Homo sapiens: one gene and its partner. The protein of the gene in region 2 purifies or fractionates together with the protein of the main gene of each other region. This does not show direct contact. Each region holds a gene or a part of one and is shown on either strand. Other genes may lie near its edges.

What was found.
Region 1: the proteins of CHAF1A (region 2) and CBX1 purify together in Homo sapiens (affinity purification with mass spectrometry; 4 studies listed by BioGRID and IntAct, with this or other methods). This does not show direct contact.

The regions. Positions count from the first base shown.
Region 1 is NC_000017.11:48,091,479-48,094,978, forward strand, and holds part of CBX1 (chromobox protein homolog 1), read right to left. Parts: intron 1-3,500. UniProt on the Homo sapiens protein: Component of heterochromatin. Recognizes and binds histone H3 tails methylated at 'Lys-9', leading to epigenetic repression. Interaction with lamin B receptor (LBR) can contribute to the association of the heterochromatin with the inner nuclear membrane.
Region 2 is NC_000019.10:4,409,140-4,412,639, forward strand, and holds part of CHAF1A (chromatin assembly factor 1 subunit A), read left to right. Parts: coding exon 1-620; intron 621-1,365; exon of another isoform or gene 1,366-1,384; intron 1,385-3,500. UniProt on the Homo sapiens protein: Acts as a component of the histone chaperone complex chromatin assembly factor 1 (CAF-1), which assembles histone octamers onto DNA during replication and repair.

The DNA of each region.
Region 1 (3,500 bases), on a different chromosome or scaffold from region 2:
ATTCTCCTGCCTCAGCCTCCCAAGTAGCTGGGATTACAGGTGCCCGCCACCATGCCCTTTTTTTTTTTTTTTTTTTTTTTTTGAGACAGAGTCTCACTCTTGCCCAGGCTAGAATGCGGGGGCATGATCTTGGCTCACCGCAACTTCTGCCTCCAGGGTTCAAGTGCTTCTCCTGTCTCAGCCCCACCAAATAGCTGGAATTACAAGCACGCGCCACCATGCCCAGCTAATTTTTTGAATTTTTAGTAGAGACGGGGTTTTACCATGTTGGCCAGGCTGGTCTCAAACTCCTGACCTCAGGTGATCCACCAGCCTCAGCCTCCCAAAGTGCTGGCATTACAGGCGTGAGCCACCACACCAGGCCTAATTTTTGTATTTTTAGTAGAGAGGGGGTTTCACCATGTTGGCCAGGCTGGTCTCGAACTCCTGACCTCAGGTGATCCACTCACCTCGACCACTCAAAGTACTCAGGTTACAGGCGTGAGCCACCATGCCCAGCCAGATCTTTTTTTTTTTTTTTTTTTTTTTTGAGATGCAGTTTCACTCTTGTCACCCAGGCTGGAATACAATGGTGCCATCTTGACTCACCACAACCTTCGCCTCCCAGGTTCAAGTGATTCTCCTGCCTCAACCTCCCGAGTGGCTGGGATTACAGGCATGCGCCACCATGCCCAGCTACTTTTGTATTTTTAGTAGAGATGGGGTTTCTCCATGTTGGTCAGGCTGGTCTCGAACTCCTGACCTCGGGTAATCTGCCCGCCTCGCCCTCCCAAAGTGCTGGGATTACAGGACTGAGCCACCATGCCCGACCAGATCTTCTACCTTTTAATACTATCTATTAAAAAAAAAATAAAATTAGCGAGGCACTGTGGCTCACACCTGTAATCCCAGCAGTTTAGGAGGCCAAGGCAAGGGTTGTGGAGTGGTTAAGGCCATGAGTTTCAGACCAGCCTGGGCAACACAGCAAGACTCCATCTCTCTCTCTCTCTCTTTTTTTTTTTGAGAGGGAGTCTTGCTCTGTTGCCCAGGCTAGAGTGCAGCTATCTTGGCTCACAACCTCCACCTCCCGGGTTCAAGGGATTCTCCTGCCTCAGCCTCCTGAGTAACTGGGATTACAGGTGCCCGCCGCTGCACCTGGCTAATTTTTCTATTTTTAGTAGAGACAAGGTTTCACCATCTTTGCTAGGCTGGTCTCGAACTCCTGACCTCGTGATCCACTTACCTCAGACTCCCAAAGTGCTGAGATTGCAGGCGTGAGCCACCGCACCCAGCTGCGAGACTCTATCTCTAAAAGATTAATTAATTAATTAGGCCGGGCATGGTGGCTCAGGCCTGTAATCCCAGCACTTTGGGAGGCCGAGGTCGGCAGATCACCTGAGGTCAGGAGTTTAAGACTAGCCTGACCAACATGGAGAAACCCAGTCTCTACTAAAAATACAAAATGAGCCGGACGTGGTGGCGCATGCCTGTAATCCCAGCTACTCGGGAGGCTGAGGCAGGAGAATCGCTTGAACCCAGGAGGCAGAGGTTGCAGTGAGCCGAGATCACACCATTGCACTCCAGCCTGGGCAGCAAGAGCAAAACTCTGTCTCAAAAAAAAAAAAAAAAAAAGAAAAGAAAAGAAAAGAAAGAAACAAATTAGTTGGGCATGATGGCAGGCGCCTGTAATCCCAGCTACCCAACTACTTGGGAGGCTAAAGCAGGGAGAACTGCTTGAACCCAGGAGGCAGAGGTTGCAGTGAGGCCAGATCACGACACTGCATTCCAGCCTGGGCAATAGAGCGAGACTCTGTCTCAAAAATAAAATTAAAAAAAAAAAAAAAAGACACAGAAGACAGGTCTCGAAAAAAATTTACAAAAAGGTAAACAATGCAAGTTCAAGTGAGAGTCCGAAATGGCAAGCATACATAATTACCAAAAGCAGTATAAGCAATAAAAAGTAGCCATAAACGCACTATAGGAGGTTGGAGGAAGAACTGGCGAGGGCATCAGTAAACATTTTGAAAAGCTGAGTTTGAAACCAGGCTTTACTAGCATTTGAAAAGGTGTACTGGTAGGGCAATTTGGCTTCAGGAACTGTTGTAAACAAAGGCAATGTGACACATATAAACCAGTTTGGGCTGGAGCTGACTGAATAGGAAATATTTTCTACAAGGTTTCCTCCCATTTAAAACAAAAGGCCAAAGTCGTCAGTGTAACACTTATATTCTTCGGTTCTTATTCCAGACTAATTATGTCCCTTCTTCCCTCACAAAATCTACATTCCTGTCAAAGACTATAACCTGGCCACAACCTGAACATATCCTATGTTTCCTCCATAGCTTTGCTCATCTATTAAGTATTAAGAAGTGTGGGCTTAGGCCCGGCATGGTGACTCACGCCTGTAATCCCAGCACTATGGGAGGCTGAGGCAGGCGAATTACCTGAGGTCAGGAGTTCGAGACCAGCCTGACCAACATGACCCCATCTCTACTAAAAATACAAAATGAGCTGGGTGTGGTGGCGCATGCCTGTAATCCCAGCTACTCCAGAGGCTCAGGAAGGAGAATCGCTTCAACCTGGGAGGCGGAAGTTGCGATGCGCCAAGATCGTGCCACTGCACTCCAGCCTGGGCATCAAGAGTGAAACTCTGTCTCAAAAAAAAAAAAAAAAAAAAAAAAGAAGTGTGGGCTTGGTAGGGCGCAGTGGCTCATGCTTGTAATCCCAGCACATTGGGAGGCCAAGGCAGGTGGATCACTTGAGGTCAGGAGTTCAAGATCAGCCTGGCTAAGATGGTGAAACCCCAACTCTAGTAAAAATACAAAAATCATCCAGGTGTGGTGGCACATACCTGTAATCCCAGATAGTCAGGAGGCTAAAGCAGGAGAATTCCTTGAACTTGGGAGGTGAAGGCTGCAGTGAACCAAGATTGTGCCACTGCACTCCAGCCTGGGATACAGGACAAGACTCTGTCTCCAAAAAAAAAAAGTGTGGGCTGGGCTCTGTGGCCCACACCTGTAATCTCAGCACTTTGGGAGGCCGAGGTGGGTGGATCCTTCAGGCTAGGAGTTTGAGACCAGCCCAGCAACATGGTGAAACCCCGTGTCTACTAAAAATACAAAAAAAAAATTAGCCAGCATGGCGCACCTGTAGTCCCAGCTACTCAAGAAGCTGAGGCACGATAATTGCTTGAATCCGGAAAACGGGGTTAGGATGCAGTGAGCTGAGATCGCGCCACTGCACTCCAGCCTGGGTGACGGACCAAGACTCTGTCTCAAAGGAAAAAAAAAAAAAAAAAGTGTGCTCCTGACTGGGCTTGGTGGCTCACACCTATAAATCAGTACTTTGGGAAGTCGAGGCGGGTGGATCACTTGACGCCTGGAGTTCAAGACCAGCCTGGCCAACATGGTGACACCCCATATCTACTAAGAATACAAAAATTAGCCAGGTGTGGTGGTGCATGCCTGTAATCCCAGCCACTTGGGAGGGTGGGGCACAAGAATTACTTGAACCAGGCAGGC
Region 2 (3,500 bases):
CAGTCATCATTGATTTGACAGAGGACTCGAATGAGCAGCCAGACAGTCTTGTGGACCACAATAAACTAAATTCTGAAGCCTCTCCCTCCAGGGAGGCAATAAATGGCCAGCGAGAAGACACTGGGGATCAGCAGGGGTTGTTGAAGGCCATTCAGAACGACAAGTTGGCATTTCCTGGAGAGACCCTTTCAGACATTCCTTGCAAAACAGAGGAGGAGGGTGTTGGCTGTGGAGGTGCAGGGAGGAGAGGCGACTCCCAGGAATGTTCGCCACGGAGCTGCCCGGAGCTGACGAGTGGCCCGAGAATGTGCCCCAGAAAGGAGCAGGACAGTTGGAGTGAAGCTGGGGGCATCCTGTTCAAAGGGAAGGTGCCTATGGTGGTCTTGCAGGACATCTTGGCTGTGAGACCACCGCAAATCAAGTCCCTTCCAGCCACACCCCAAGGCAAGAACATGACCCCTGAGAGTGAGGTGCTGGAATCTTTCCCCGAAGAAGACTCTGTACTCAGCCATTCGTCCCTGAGCTCTCCCTCTTCCACCAGCTCGCCCGAGGGGCCGCCTGCTCCCCCAAAGCAGCACAGCAGTACCAGTCCCTTCCCCACCTCCACGCCCCTCCGCAGAGTGAGTATCTCCCATGGAGTCCCTGCACATCAGTGCTCACGGATCTCAGAGCGCTGTCAGTCTCCACTGGGTCACCCAGGTGTTTTGTGGCAGAGTGAGCGGGGCCACGGGCTGGGTCCTGGGACTCGACGTGGAGTTCTTCCTGGTATCAAAACTCACAGTGTTCAGTTCTGCATTCGTTGTGATGCCCCTGGGACTTAATTCATCAACAGTGTACCTGGTGTACTGTGTGAATAACACCCTGCTGTTTTGCCTTCGTTGTTCACATCTAATCAGTGATAGCTTAGCCGTTTTAGGGAATTAGGATCTGAGCTGGTGCTGTAACCCCTCACTTCAGATTCGAGGTCCAGCTTTCTCTGTGCCCTTCCTGTCTAAGCATAGAAATGTAGGGACGGGGCTGCAAAGACACTGAGCACTGAAGTGGCAGTGAGACGGCAGGAAGCATGACTTGGGGAATTCTGTAGGGTCAGCACAGCCAGCCATCTTAAAAACCTTACCTGGGGCCAGGCACAGTGGCTCATGCCTGTCATCCCAGCACTTTGAGAGGCCGAGGTGGGAGGATCGCTTGAAGATCACTTCAAAACCAACCTGGGCAACATAGACACCATCTCTATGAAAAAAAATTACTTTTTTTTTTTTTTTTGACAGAGTCACTCTATCACCCAGGCTGGAGTTCAGTGGCGTGATCTCGGCTCACTGCAACCTCCACCTCCCAGGTTCAAGCGATTCTCCTGCCTCAGCATCCCTGATAGCTGGGATTACAGGTGCGCACCACCACACTTGGCTAATTTTTATATTTTTAGTAGAGACAGGGTTTCACTATCTTGGCCAGGCTGGTCTTGAATTTCTGACCTCAAGTAATCTGCCCGTCTTGGCCTCCCAAAGTGCTGGAATTATAGGCATGAGCCACTGCACCCAGCCCTGCAAAAAAATTTTTAAAAGTTATCCAGGCATGGTGGCACATGCCTGTAGTCCCAGCCACCTGGGAAACTGAGGCAGGAGGATCACTTGAGCTGAGGAGTTGGAGGCCGCAGCGAGCTATGATCACACTGCCGCGCTCCAGCCTGGGTGACAGAGCGAGACCCCATCTGGAACCATTTTTAAGGACCCCATAAGGGGGACTTTTGCATGGTCTGTCTCTGTTATTGATTTTTTATTAGCACAATGGTGTCCTTAAGGTCTTAGGGACCAAACTGATAAAATCAGTCACGAGTCCCACGGTGTTTAGTGGTGTCTTTTGATTTTATAATTTTTTACTTTTTATCTTAAGTATGTAGAACCAGAAGAGACAGTGCCTTTTTATGTTTTTGGTTTTGTAGCACTTTTGTTTGTTCATGTTGGGTCTTTATATGAGAGTAGTAGATCCTGAGATGGGTCATTTAATCTGTACCTGTAAGCAGGTACAGTAGACCACCTGGACCATAAACCACCAACCTTGTTCGCTTTCGGGATTTTGAGCTCTAAGGAACCATTTATTTATTTATTTTTGAGACAGAGTCTTGCTCTGTCACCCAGGCTGGAGTACAATGGCGCCATCTCAGCTCACTGCAACCTCCGCCTCTTGGGTTCAAGCAATTCTCCTGCCTCACCCTCTCAAGTAGCTGGGATTAGAGGCACCCGCCACCATGCCCAGCTAATTTTTGTATTTTTAGTAGAGACGGGGTTTTGCCATGATGGCCAGACTGATTTCAAACTCCTGACCTCAGGTAATCCACCCGCCTTGGCCTCCCAAGTTTCTGGGATTATAGGCGTGAGCCACTGTGCTTGGCCAAGAGCATTTATTTTTCTGAATGACTTCATTTCTTGTCTTTCACCTGAGAAGATGAAAAAGGAAAAAATGGCTTCCTCTTTAGGTTTATGAAATGTTGTAAAAATGGTGCAAATCTTTTTTTTTTTTTTTTTTTTTGAGACATGGTCTCACCCTGTCGCCCAGGCTGGAGGGCAATGGCATGGTCTCAGCCTACTGCAGCCTCCACCTTCTAGGTTCAAGCGATTTTCCTGCGTCAGCCTCTTGAGTAGCTGGGATTACAGGTGCCCACCACCACGCCTGGCTAATTTTTGTATCTTTTCAGTAGAGACGGGTTTCACCATGTTGGCCAGGCTGGCCTCAAACTTCTGACCTCAGGTGATCCGCTTGCCTCGGCCTCCCAAAGTGCTGGGATTACAGGCATGAGCCACCGCCCCAGTCTTCTACTTTGTTTTATATGTGCTGGTTTGTTATATAGGTAAACTCTTGTCGTGGGGGTTTGTTGTACAGATTATTTTATCACTCAGGTACTAAGCCTAGTACCCTCTTCTAAGTTACTAAATGTGCCAGACTGGCATGTACACATTTCAGCTTCTACCTAATCCACCACTCAATCTCCCAAAATCAGAGTTGAAGTCTCTCCCCATTGGGCATCCTGTAGTGTACATTCGATCACTTGAATTTCTTCCAGGCTGCTGCCGCTTTGCAAAATTTCGTCCTGTGATGTGAGCCATTTAGCAAGAACGGGACACATGGCTGGGCGCGGTGGCTCACACCTGCAATCCCAGCACTTTGGGACGCCGAGGCGGGTGGATCACCTAAGGTCGAGAGTTCAAGACCAGGCTGACCATTATGGAGAAACCCCGTCTCTACTAAAAATACAGAAAATTAGCTGGGTATGGTGACGCTTGCCTGTAATCCCAGCTACGCCGGAGGCTGAGGCGGGAGAACCGCTTGAACCCAGGAGGCAGAGGTTGCGGTGGCCTGAGATCGTGCCATTGCACTCCAGCCTGGGTAACAAGAACAAAACTCCGTCTCAAGAAAAAAAAAAAGGACAGGACACAAGCACATGTTTCCATTAAGTTTGTTTCCATGTCCACAGCTTAGTCTGCAAACTGGGAAGTCCCCTCGTT